Homo sapiens: one gene and its partner. The protein of the gene in region 1 purifies or fractionates together with the protein of each later gene. This does not show direct contact. Each region holds a gene or a part of one and is shown in the gene's direction. Other genes may lie near its edges.

What was found. Proteins that work in one complex are often made in the same cells at the same time.
Region 2: the proteins of ZRANB1 (region 1) and HECTD1 purify together in Homo sapiens (affinity purification with mass spectrometry; 5 studies listed by BioGRID and IntAct, with this or other methods). This does not show direct contact.

What each region holds. Positions count from the first base shown.
Region 1 is NC_000010.11:124,945,107-124,952,135, forward strand, and holds part of ZRANB1 (ubiquitin thioesterase ZRANB1), read left to right. Parts: intron 1-7,029. UniProt on the Homo sapiens protein: Ubiquitin thioesterase, which specifically hydrolyzes 'Lys-29'-linked and 'Lys-33'-linked diubiquitin. Also cleaves 'Lys-63'-linked chains, but with 40-fold less efficiency compared to 'Lys-29'-linked ones.
Region 2 is NC_000014.9:31,127,775-31,134,803, reverse strand, and holds part of HECTD1 (E3 ubiquitin-protein ligase HECTD1), read left to right. Parts: intron 1-1,128; coding exon 1,129-1,295; intron 1,296-1,389; coding exon 1,390-1,566; intron 1,567-5,355; coding exon 5,356-6,192; intron 6,193-6,797; coding exon 6,798-7,019; intron 7,020-7,029. UniProt on the Homo sapiens protein: E3 ubiquitin-protein ligase which accepts ubiquitin from an E2 ubiquitin-conjugating enzyme in the form of a thioester and then directly transfers the ubiquitin to targeted substrates.

The sequences.
Region 1 (7,029 bases):
TTCACCGTTTTGCAAGTGAACAACTCATTTGGCATTTAGTGCATTCACATTGTGTAACCACTACCTCTGTGTTGTTCCAGAACATTTTCATCATCCCAAAAGGAAACTATGTACCCATTAAGCAGTTACTGCCCCCTACCCCTACCCGCTAACCCTTGATAACTGCCAGTCTGCTTTTGGTGTCTGTGGATTTACCTATTCTGGATATTCATATAAATGGAATCTTTACATATCTGTGAGCTTTTATGTTGGGTGTGATTGTCTTTTAATTGCTTGTATGCCTTTGGAACAGTCTTAAAATCATTTTTTTTTTTTTTTTTTTTTTTTTCAGGGAGTAGTGTACTATGAATACTTGGACTACAAGGTGGTGTTATAGTACATGTAGGTTTATAGATGAAAATGAACTAGACTTCATTGTGACGGTTCTTAACCTCACAGTGAAGGTCACTAAACCTCACTAAAGGTCATAGAATCCTTTAGGAATCAGGGCTTCATTTCAACCCCCGGTTGCTTCAAGTCAGTGGATCTCAGGATAAGAACACCTGATTTGAAATATTTTCTTTCCTTGAAACACACAAGTTAGATGAATCAACATGTTTGTCTTTATGACATTATTTCTTCTTGGTCCTGCCTTTTTCTACATATCCTTACTACTTTTGACTAGACGACTAGCCATCCTTGTACCTCTTTGCATTTTATTTATTTTTTTGAGACAGGGTCGCGAGGCTGGAGTGCAGTGCTGCAATCATGGCTCACTGCAGCCTTGACTTCCTAAGCTCAAGCCATCCGCCCACCTCAGCCTCCTGGGTAGCTGGGACTACAGGCGCATACCACCACGCCTGGCAAATTTTTGTATTTTTTTTGGAGAGACGGGGTTTTACCTTGTTACCCAGGCTGGCATCTTATTCCTGTGCTCAAGTGATCCACCCACCTCAGCCTCCCAGAGTGCCAGGATTACAGGGGTAAGCCACTGGGTCCGGCCCATCTCTTTGCATTTTAATCACTGAGTTCAATTTAAAAGTGGAACAAGGCCAGGCACAGTGGCTCAGGTCTGTTAATCCCAGCACTTTGGGAGATTGAGTTGGGCGGGTCACCTGAGGTCGGGAGTTCGAGACCAGCCTGACCAACATGAAGAAACCCCGTCTCTACTAAAAATACAAAATTAGCCGGGCATGGTGGCACATGCCTGTAGTCCCAGCTACCTGGGAGGCTGAGGCAGGAGAATCGCTTGAACCTGGGAGGTGGAGGTTGCAGTGAGCCAAGACTGCACCATTGCACTGCAGCCTGGGCAACAAGAGCAAAACCCTGTCTCAAAAAAAAAAAAAAAAAGAAAAGAAAAGTGGAACAAAAACTTCTACCAATAGGACCAGTATTGGATTTGACGTTGTTTTATTTATAAAATGATTTGTCATTAAGTTGCTGTTTCTACCTGCAAAGTTTCTAGATTCTTAGGGGCAAGGGTTGATTGTATTTGGTTCTTGGTAATGTGGACTATGTCTTTCCTATTGGCAAATAATTTTTACTATTAACTCTACAATGTCATTCTGAACTGTTATACGTAAGGTTATAATTATAGGCCTGTTTCTATGGGATAGCCATATTCTGATGTGTAAACATAACTGAAATATGTTAAATACTTTTTTTAAACTTGTTTACATTGTGTTGGGTTAATTTAAAAAAAGGCTTGAGCAGTAAGACTAACAGAAGTTCACATGTACTCAAAATTAATCTTTACGTCCCTTTTCTGCCTGCCTTATGTTCCCCAGATTTCATTAGATACAGTGTATTTTGGGTTATTGATGTTAAGTGTTTTTTAAAAAATACATCTCTAAAGTAGTATATACACTGAGTATAAAATGTGAGACTTTTCCATTTAAAGTTGGAAAAAAATTGCAACCTCAGGTCAGCTTTGTAGCTGATAAACTAGGAATGAGGAAGATTCAGTTGTTGAGAGGGCAGATGTCAACTAACACATCAGCAGTATCGAGCAAACATATTGACATAGCTGTTGGGTGTTAAGTTTCACATAAGTCATATTATCTTATGTGGTGAGAGGATGTTGGGGACAGCTGTGCCAAAACCTGATATCAGTAGTAGAGCCTGAGGTTGAGAACCAGGGTGGTAAAGGTAGAGGTGTGAATGTAAATGTACAGTTGTCTCTGGAATGTCTGCAGTTGGTACTAGATGTTTTTAGGTACATCAGGTTTTTAGGGCGGTCATGTGAGCACTCACCATAGACTGCTTTTCTCACTGGGTAGACAATAATGTATCTAGAGAATAGAGCAGCACTACCTAATGCCCTGCTTTTGTTCTGCTATTGTATTGAATCAGTTGCCTTATGAAATTGCACTTCAATTTGTGTACATAGATACGTCCTTAAAAAGACACAGGGTTAGATAAGAACACCATATTAAATCTGTGCTGTAATGTGTATTCCTGAATCCTAGACTCATATATCCAGCTGCCTATTCAGCATCTTTCCTGGAGTGTTTAAAAACTCAAGCTCATTTCAAGCTCAGTAATGCTAAAACAGAACTGATCTCTCCTTCAAATCTATTTTTTCCCAGGCTCTCATCTTGGTTGATGGCAAATTTCTCATTCCATTGCTTGTGCCAAAAGCCTTGGCCCTCCTTGATTCTTCTTTCTCTTATGCCCCACTTCTATTTCTGAGAAGATTCTTTGGCTCTACCTTCAAAATATATCTGTACTCTGACCACTTCTCACTATTCTTGTCCAAACCATGATCTACCCTTGCCTTTGCCCTCCGTACAATCTGCTGTCATCAGAGGAGCTAATTCTTCTCAGAACCCTCTAGTGATCACCTGTTTTACTTGGATTAAAAGCCAGAGTCCCTCAAAAACTCTACAAGGCCATCTACATGCTCTGTATTGCACACTTCAGCTTCCCTCCATATACTTTTGACCCTTGAATAACACAGGTCTGAACTGTGCGCGTCCACTTATACGTGAGTTTTCTACCAGCTCTGCCACCCCTGAGACAGCAAGAATAATGCCTCTTCTTCCTCCTCCCCCTCCTCAGCCTACTCAAGGTGAAGATGATGATGATGAAGACCTTTATGATGAGCCACTTTGACTTAATGAGTTGGTAAATGTATTTTCTCTTCCTTATGATTTTCTTAATAACATTTTCTTTTCTCTAATGTATTACAAGAATACAGTGTATAATACATATACAAATATGTGTTCGACTGTTTATGCTATTAGTAAGGCTTCCGGTCAACAGTAGGCTATCAGTATTTTGGGGGGAGTTAAAAGTTATACATGGATTTTCTACTGTGTGGGAGATTGGTCCCCCTAATCTCCATGTTGTTCAAGGGCCAAATATAGTTTATCTCTGAACTAATCTGTTTTCCACCTTTTCCATTTCATTCCAGCCACTCTTGCCACCTTTTTTTTTTTTCCTATAAATAAGCCTCAAGCCTTTTACTTGCTGTTTGCTCTGCCTGGATTGCTCTCCACCTTCGCTTCTTTTCTCATGTATTGCCTTCTCAATGAGGTCCTCCATGACTGCCGTATCTAAAATTTCATCCCTGTCCATTATCCCTCCCCACAGCATTAATTTTCTTCATAACACTTCTAATATGCTTCATCATCTTGTTTATTATTTGTCTCTCTCTACTCTAGAATTTAAGCTTCCTGAGGGCCAGTAATTTTATGTTTTGTTCAAAGCTGTATCTTAGTATGTACAACAGTGCCTGCTACATACATACTAGGCACTCAGGTATTTTTATATCAATGAACGAATGAATATTTTTGGGAACTAGGGTCTGGGCAAACCTTTATCCTACTCCTCCTATGAATTTCTAGATTCTTTGCCTGCTTCCTAGCTCTCTATGTTTTTCAATAGTTGGGGCTCAACCCAGGAGAGCCAGTTTTACTTCTCACTGGTTGTCAGGAAGACTGAGGTAAGTAGTGGGTATGAAAGGGTCTTACAGGAAAGGGTATAGAGGCTTCAGTTTATCACCAGGCAGTCTATGGACATGAAAAGTCTAAAGTCAGGTTTATGTTTAATTTCTCTACCTCCCTACTTTCACTCATGGCAATATTTGTTTTTTCAAAAAAATCATTCTATGTGTTTGCTATAACTATCAAATGAGATTTTTACTTGAAATATTTTATTCAGTTGTCATTGGACCTGCTGCTTCCTAGTTGGCGTTTATCTTACTTCCTAAACAATAGCTGCATCTTTCTTAAGTTTAGGAGCTGAGATTTGGTTGGGGCTGTTGAAGGTATAGGGGGAAAAAAATCAAACTTAAGTAACAAGTTCACATTGAAACTATGTATACACATATATATGTATATATATATGTTTACACACATATGTATATATATATGTTTACACACACATATATGTATATATATTCACGTATACACACACACACACACACACACACACATTTTTTTTTTTTTTTTGAGACAGGATCTTGCTCTGTTGCCCATGCTGGAGTGCAGTGGTGCGATCACAGCTCACTGCAGCCTTGACCTCCTGGGCTTAAGCAGTCCTCCCACCTCAGCTTCCCTAGTAGCTGGGCGTACAGGTGTATACCACCATGCCCCGCCAATTTTAAAAATGATTTGTAGAGATGGGGTCTCTCTGTGTTGCCCAGGCTGGTTTCAGACTCCTGGACTCAAGTACTGGGACTGCAGTTGTGAGCCACCACCTGGCCTGAAACTGGAATTTTTATGCTGAAATACTCAGTTGCCCAATAGCAGTGGTATGAACAGCTTTCACTATAGGGAATATGTGAATCAGTAATGCCTCCCGGTGCTCTGAAGTTTTGGGGTGACGTGAAGTGCACATGCAGTGGTGTTCCCTGTTGAAAATCAATGACTTACGGACTGAACCAGAATCTCTTCTTTATCAAGTAGCAGGATGAAGTGGCATCATGAGGATTATAATTCTGATGGTTTCTGAGCAAAATTTGTCCCACTTTCAGAATTTTGACATGTCTGTAAAGACTTAGATGATTTTTATTGTTTTATTTTTTAATTAATTAACTAATTAACTTTTTTGAGGCAAGGTGGTCTCACTGTCTCCCAGGCTAGAGTGCAGTGGTGTGTGATCTTGGCTCACTTCAATCTCTGCCTCCTGGGCTCAAGCAATTCTCCTACCTCAGCCACCCAGGTAGATGGGACTACAGACGTGCACCACCACGCCTGGCTAATTTTGCATTTTTTGTAGAGATGAGGTTTCCCCTTGTTGCCCAGGCTGGTCTCAAACTCCTGGGTTCAAGCAGCCCGCCCGCCTCGGTCTCCCAAAGTGCTGGGATTACAGGTGTGAGCCACTGTGCCTGGTCTTACATGATTTTTAAAACATAGAACATGTATTGGTAACGTTTTCTTATATTAGTTGTCTGCAAAAATATTGTTATATTTAATCTATTATTTTCCCTTTTCTCATAACTTAATTGTGTTGAGAATCAATGTTTGAGGCAAATCCATTTGGATTCTAATTGTATTTGGGCCTCTTGCCAGAAATCCGTATAACGTGTCATATGGTGTCTGTCCACTCTAGAGTGCCAAGTGTAACTCTAGAAATATCTAAATATTTCCACAGTTTCTGGATGGGTCTGGATATGGTGGCTCAGTCCTGTAATCCCAGCACTGTGGGAGGTTGAGAAGAGGGGAGGATCGTTTCAGCCTAGGACTCTAAAACCAACCTGGGCAACTTGGCGAGACCTCGTCTCTATAAAAAATAAAAAAAATTAGCAGGACATGGTGGTGTTCCCATGTGGTCCCCACCTATGCAGGAGGCTGGGATGGGAGGAACACTTGCGCCCAGGCTGCAGCGGGCCATGATTGTGTCACTGCATTGCAGCCTGGGTGACAGAGCAAGACCATGTCTTAAAACTTGCATGGTATTAAATATGTCAGAAGGTATTTGTCCATTTGGTTTTACTTACACACCTTGTTTAAAAAAAAAAATAGCAAAGTGTAGGCGTATTACATTTTAAAATATTCTTTTCAATTTGTTTTGGTATTGATATTAAGAATTACGTATATAGATGGACATTTACAATTTGTCAGAGGTTTTTCTCAAGTAAATTATTAAATTAGTATTACTTTTTTCTCTGGAGAAACAAAACCGTTGCAAAATGTAATCTTCTATAATGATTTTTTTAAAAAAAGTTTCTACTGTTGAAATATGTGCCTGGTGTAATGAAAGGGAGGTTGTACAATAATCCAAACAAAATTAAATTAACTTCTGTGAAGGAAAAGTCATTTAGTTTTTGAGAGATTATATTCCTTTGAACTGGAATGATTTTAAAGTGATTTATATTACCAAGAAAATTACCATGTCAAAACGGAAAAGGAAATCCTTGCATTGGACACTGGTGATTTTGCCCATTTAAGACATCTTTGGGGTGACTTTTTAACTTGAGAGAAAACTCAGGGCATACAAACGATTGTGAAGAAAAAAATAGAAGAGGCTTCTATTCTCTAGTTCATTACTCCTTAGCTTTAAAAATTATTTCTTTCACAAGGATATTTTATTGATGACTTACCTGAAGGCACAAAACATTTGGTGTTTTTAAAAACACACCATCTGCTGGTCGCGGTGGCTCATGCCTGTAATCCCAGCACTTTGGGAGAGCGGGGCGGTCGGATCACTTGAGGTCAGGAGTTCAAGACCAGCCTGGCCAACATGGTGAAACCTCGTCTCTACTGAAAATACAAAAATTAGCTGGGTGTGGTGGCGGGCATCTGTAATCCCAGCTACTTGGGAGGCTGAGGCAGAAGAATCTCTTGGACCTGGGAGGCGGAGGTTGCAGTGAGCTGAGATCATGCCACCGCACTCCAGCCCGGGCAACAAAGTGAAACTCTGTCTCAAAATAAATAAATAAATAAAAACAAAAAAATAAAAACAGTATTGATGAAATAAGTTATAATGTCCAAATTTACATTTTTAACTTGCCCATTGACTTCCTTATAGGTTCATCTCCCTCTACCCCCTCTTTGGGCTTTTTGGGTGATTTGCATGACCAATATAAATAGAGTGGCAGGCAAG
Region 2 (7,029 bases), on another chromosome or scaffold:
CTCTAGAGCTCTCTTCCTTGTGAAATATTGAAGCAAAATTTTCTTTCTAAAAACAAATCACTTGATACTTTAGGCATTAAAACTTTGAAACACTGACTTTACTAAAACTTTGTCAAAAGGTTTAGTTTAAATAATAGAAAGCCGAGCTATTTTACACTGTATCTTAGCCAAAAGGCTGAGATGCTGTGAATATTTATTTTAAAAATTGGTATATAGCTGTATATACATACGCGCGCACACACACACACACACACACACACACACACACACACACACACACACACATTTATGCATACACACACAGCCCACTAATGGAAACAAGTGAAATAAACTTTCCATAAACTCTCCATATAATCACATAATACTTAGGAATGTTCAACATATTAGCAGTGGCTATTGCTCGTTATAGAATTAAGGCTGACTTAAAATGTTTTTATTTTTATCCTTAAATTTTATGTATTGAATAAGTTTTTAAAAGACAAGTCAGTAACTTCTAAAAAATTAGTTCTACTAAATTTTATTTATGCATTTTGGCACATATCAGGGGGTAGATTATGTACCCAAATTGCTTTTGGCATTTGATATGGTATGAGAGGAGCTTCTTAACATTAGGATTAATAGGTGATGTTTTCACCCCTTTCATGCTTTAAAGACAAAATATTAATACGTTATTTAAAAGTTTGCAAAAATGTTTTTAAGTCCGTTTTTCCATCATAAGAGAATTTCTCCTACTCTTTGTAAACCATCCTTTTTTTTTTTTTAAGGAGAATGGGGTCTTGTTATGTTGGCTGCTTTCTAACTTCTGGGCTCAAGTGATTCCCCTCACCTCAGCCACCCAAACACCACTGCACCCAGCATTTTGTCTTTTATCTTTGAATTATATTAATCATAAATCATTAATGTTATGAGTCAAATCAATAGCGTACATTTAAATGTTTCGTTTTTAACTTGTTCTCTTGACTACTTTTTTTCCTTTGATTTCTTGATTCTTGTAATGAACTGTTGAGTTAATATGAAAGTTAGTTTATTTTTTCTACAGGTCTCTGTTATATAAAAAATCTTTCCCATCTTGAATTTCTTTTTCATCTTTTAAAATATTACATAATTTTTTCTCTAACATATTAACAGGTCAACTGCAACTTGGCCTCTTGATCCACCAAAGGATGAGAAACAAGGGTGGAGACATGTGAGAATTAAACAGATGGGGAAAAATGCCAGTGGACAAACACACTACCTCTCATTATCTGGATTCGAACTTTATGGCACTGTAAATGGAGTATGTGAAGATCAGCTAGGTAAAGAGATGATACGAGGCTTTTCTAACTTACTAAAACAATTACTTTTGTAAAAAGTGATTTGGTTTTTATTTCTCCAATTTCTACCTGACAGGGAAAGCAGCTAAAGAAGCAGAAGCTAATCTTAGACGGCAGAGACGTCTAGTACGTTCCCAGGTTCTGAAATACATGGTTCCAGGAGCTCGTGTTATCAGAGGCCTGGATTGGAAATGGCGAGATCAGGATGGCAGCCCACAGGGAGAAGGCACTGTCACAGGAGAACTACACAATGGTGAGTAGGTGCTCAGCACTTTTGTGTAGAAAATGGGTAGTTAAATTTTTTCTTTTAAGATAATTTATAAATTGCATAAATGTATGAGCACTGTTTAGAAGAACTGTTGATACCACATTACAAATGGAAAAAAGGTAAAGAAAATAAGGGAAAATTTTAAGTTCTTGGGTTTTGACTAGAAACTTACTGGTAGTATTTTGGAAGTGATCAAGCCTAGTGTAAGTTGAGTATCTTCAAGACACACTTCCGGTTTTTTCCCCTAGTTTATTTTCAAGCTTACTGTGAGTTTTATTTTAATTTCTTATGTTTTTCTTTATCTTGTTAGTCTCACACCATAATTTTTATGGTATCATAAATCATATAGAAGAAAAAGGATTAACATTTTTACTGTTTTTTAATAATGCATGGAACAAGAAACATTGTCTCTTTATCTGTTAGTAGATTATTATTATTTCAAAGTGTTTCTTAGCCTACCTGCTTTTTGGGGAGGAGTTTATCATGTTTTCTAAATATTGCTATGTGAATCAAGTTTCTTTGATGCTGCACAGTTTAGCAAAGTCATCCACTTAATAAATTGCTATTAACTTTAAAGCAATTATAGTGGCTAATTATTTTCTTCAAACTATAAGGCTGACTTATTAGCAGATAATTTGCCTAAATGGCAGTGGGTTTGTTTTCATCAATTTTGTATCAGTTTTTGGCATTAAAAAAAGTAAAAATGTTTATATTCTCAACTTACACCACATATATATATCCACATATATGTGTGTGTATATATATGTATTTTTTTTTTTTTTTTTGAGACAGAGTCTCGCTCTTGTTGCCCAGGCTGGAGTGCAATGGCGCAATATCAGCTCACTGCAACCTCTGCTTCCCAGGTTCAAGCGATTCTACTGTCTCAGCCTCCTGACTAGCTAGGATTATAGGCATGGGCCACCATGCCTGGCTAATTTTGTATTTTTAGTAGAGACGGGGTTTCTCCATGTTGGTCAGGCTGGTCTTGAACTCCCGACCTCAGGTGATCCACCCACCTCGGCCTCCCAAAGAGCTGGGATTACAGGCGTGAGCCACCGCACGCGGCAACTTACACCACATATTTAAAGAGCTAGAATAAATGTGACGGTACTTACGAGAATGACTGACATTTAATTTCATGTTTTATGTGGTAAAGACATTTATTTATTCAAATAAACCCTTTGACTATATTGCTTTTAAGATTCTATTCCTTGAATTATTTTACTGCCAAATGTATTTATGTAGTATCATGCCCTAATTGCAAATCATTGTAATCAAAACAGGTTTACAGCGACCTAAAATTCATAAATACCAGTAATAGTTGAGATATCAACTATTATTGTTATACTGAGTTGAATAGTAGTGCCATTCAACTCAGAAAATTTCAAGTTTTCTTTTTAGGCATCTTGATGATACTTATTAAAAAGTTGTTATTCTATTTCCTGTAATTGTTTTGGCCTTGATGTATGTGACTTGATAAGAAGAGGCTAGTTAGAGATGTGTGAATGCAGTTCTTTTTTCTCAGGATGGAGTCAACTGAAGCAATTGCATAGGGAAATTAGAATCTTTTTTTTTTTCCCAAGATACAATGGCACAACAGTTTTAATACAACCACCAGTCTTCAAAAAATAATTTTAATACTTTGTGCCTGTACTAGCAGCATCTTGCACTGTGACATTCCTATACATACATAAGCATTTTATTGAAGTACAAATGTTAAAAGCAGAGTAACTTAAGCAATTGCCTATACAAAGGTAAATAGACACTGTGGGTTATTTTTCTTCTCGATTCATTTTTGCTGCATAGTAAGTTGCAATTACATGTCAGTATAATAATGTTACTGATCTATAAAATATATTTGAACCGTGAGGTATGGCACCTCCCTATGAGAGAGTGCTAACATGTACATCTGAATATTTTGAGTGTTTTTTGTTTGTTTGTTCGTTTTAGCTGCCACAGATGGGAAAAAAAAAAATCACCTAGCCTAGAAATCTCAGAGTTTAGCGTTCAAGAAAGGCCTATTTTTGCTAATCTGACAAATGTAGAAATTTAGTTTTGCCTAATCAACATGGCCATTCCCATCAAGTTATGCCTTTGAGTCTCTATGTCAGAGAGGGTTCTTAGCTTTCAAATACTTAAACCAACCATTTCTAATGATGGATAGTCATTACTGACTCTATTTTTTTTTTTTTTTGGTTTATCTTTTGGGTGTAGAAGGAGTTGAGAGAGTATGTTTTTTGGGCCAATTAATATAATACAAAAGTTACTTTTATTTGAGATTGGGCTATGTTTTTGAAACTTTTCCTTTTCTCACACATTTCTGTGTAGCAGAAGAGATAGTTAAATGTTGGTTCTTCAGAGATTATTTCAGCATACAGAAAAAAATAGAGGCAATTGAAAAATCTCATCTAAGCTACTTATGTAGATTTGGGGCAGTCACTTTTCCTTTCAAAGAACACATATGCAGATAATCCCCACAGGTAATTCAATATTATTTCCCTCTGAGTGCTATCATAAACATATGAACTTGGTGTAAGTGTGGGTGAGCATCTGGGTGTGTGGATGGGTGTGTATGTGATCTTGGGCCCCTTTTATGTATGGGTAAGAACTTTATAAAGGCTTGTTATACTTCTAAAAAAATGTTTTTTATGTCTTATGTTTTTCCCTGAAATAGTTAGCTTATAACACTAAAATAAGATTGTAAAATTTCTATTAATTTGCTTTTAATAGACAATTTTTTTTTTGCTTTTGGAAGTTAATTACCTTTTTAAAAAAAGAATATCATTTTTCTACTACAAGTAAATATATAGATTGAATATCATTATGCTCGTTAATTCTGTACATGTTATTAGCTTTAGCAGATAGTTCTAATAAAAGAGTTCAGTATGCTCTTTAAATTTTTTTTTAGAATTTTCTGTGTTTATTCAAATTTATTGAACTTAATTATTTAATATAAGAGAACCAAGGAACCACTGAACTTTGAGAACACAACCGAAATGCTAACTTTAGTGTTTTATTTGAACTAGTGACTAAAATTTCTATGGCAATATATGAATATTTTGAGAGGTTAGCCCAAATTGTAAGAAATTAATGGTAAGCTGGCATGTTTTTGTAGAAAAAAAATTTGACTACACATAATTATATTTAGCAGTTTTAAAACTTTTACCTAGATTCTGTTTACTTGCTGAAGTGGCAGTATTTTACCATGTATATCAATCTTTTAAAATTTCTTAAACAGTTCTTCCATTTAAGAAGTAACCAAGCCAGGTGCAGTGGCTCACATCTATAATCCCAGCTACTCCAGAGGCTGAGGTGGGAGGATCGTTTAAGCCCAGGAGTTCAAGATTAGCATGGGCAACGCAAGACCTCATCTCTAAAAATCAAATAATTTTAAAAATGAAATATAACCCAGTAGATTTAAACATGACCCTTACATTGCTTTTAAATGTCATAGACTGAATAGTTCAGAAATAAGGGAAATAAAAGGAAGAATTTTAAACATTTCCTGGAAACCTTGTATAGAGTACATATTTCTTGTCCTTAAAATATTTGTATCATGAGAGTTAAATAATATAGACTTTCAGATAGCTAGTCATATCGTCAAATAATTGAGTCCAAAAATTTACATATATTTTAGTGGGCAGACCTTGATTGACTATAGAAATTCAGAAAAGGACAGCACTGATGAAAAGCTGATCCCATATTGTGGAGCTACTGTCTGACACGCTCCTATCTGCTTTCTGCTGGGTCTCACAAACTCCTGTCCCTTTCCAGGCTGGATTGATGTCACCTGGGATGCTGGTGGCTCAAACTCTTACCGTATGGGCGCAGAAGGAAAATTTGACCTCAAGCTTGCACCAGGGTACGACCCTGATACAGTGGCATCACCCAAACCTGTTTCATCCACTGTTTCAGGCACAACGCAATCATGGAGCAGCTTGGTGAAAAACAACTGTCCAGACAAGACATCTGCTGCTGCAGGCTCCTCAAGTAGAAAAGGAAGCAGCAGTTCTGTGTGTAGCGTGGCCAGTAGCAGCGACATCAGCTTGGGTTCGACCAAAACGGAACGGAGATCAGAAATTGTAATGGAACACAGTATAGTTTCAGGAGCTGATGTCCATGAACCAATTGTTGTTCTTTCATCTGCTGAAAACGTCCCTCAAACAGAAGTAGGGTCATCTTCCAGTGCAAGCACCAGCACCTTAACAGCGGAAACGGGAAGTGAAAATGCTGAAAGGAAGTTAGGCCCTGATAGTTCTGTTCGTACTCCTGGGGAGTCTAGTGCAATATCCATGGGAATTGTCAGTGTTAGTTCTCCTGATGTTAGTTCAGTATCTGAATTAACTAATAAAGAAGCAGCTTCACAACGACCTCTTAGCTCTTCAGCAAGTAACAGACTGTCAGTGAGTTCTTTGTTGGCTGCTGGGGCCCCTATGAGCTCTAGTGCAAGTGTACCTAACCTGTCCTCAAGAGAAACATCTAGCTTGGAGAGTTTTGTAAGGAGAGTGGCAAACATAGCACGGACTAATGCCACGAACAACATGAATCTAAGCCGAAGCAGCAGTGATAACAACACTAATACTTTGGGGAGGAATGTGATGAGCACAGCAAGTAAGTGAGCTTTTCCTTCTGGAATCCGATGCTTTTTCCACTTGGAGGGATGCAAAATAGGGTCTCTTGTTCTGGCTGCAGTTTTTAACTAGATCATTAACCATGTTAGATAAAGCTACATCAAATTTAGCAGTTCAGGAATATGAAGTTCTCTAGAATCATAATATTTGCAGAATTCAGACTAGGTGTGATAAAGAACCTCTTATTTTAGAAGCATAAAACAGTACTTCTGATTTTCACTCCTTTATGATACATCATTAAGCAAAGTTGCATGAGGAAATAGATGACTATTAAATATTATCATAGTGCAGTGAAACCAAAGCATCATATAAGTATAGCTTTTGTTTAGACTCTACATTGATCTTAGCTTCTGAAAGTTAAATTCCAATTTAAGCTGCTAACAGGTCAAAGTAATTATATAATAGTGCTATAAAAAGAATTTTTAGTTGGATTTCAGTTGGGTTCCCAAAGTTGTTGCTTTTCAGGAACCATTTTATTATTAGTGTGTTTTATGACCTCACTCTTTAAAAAATAAAAAACTTGGTTTTTCTGAGGTTTCTACAATCTCACCTATTTGTACTGATTTGCTTCATTTTTGTCTTTAGCTTCTCCTCTTATGGGTGCTCAGAGTTTCCCTAATTTGACCACACCTGGTACTACATCAACAGTGACTATGTCAACATCCAGTGTTACTAGCAGCAGCAATGTAGCTACAGCAACAACAGTTTTATCAGTTGGTCAATCTTTAAGTAACACTTTAACCACCAGCCTCACATCAACTTCCAGTGAGAGTGACACAGGTCAGGAAGCAGAATATTCCTTATATGGTAAGTTGTA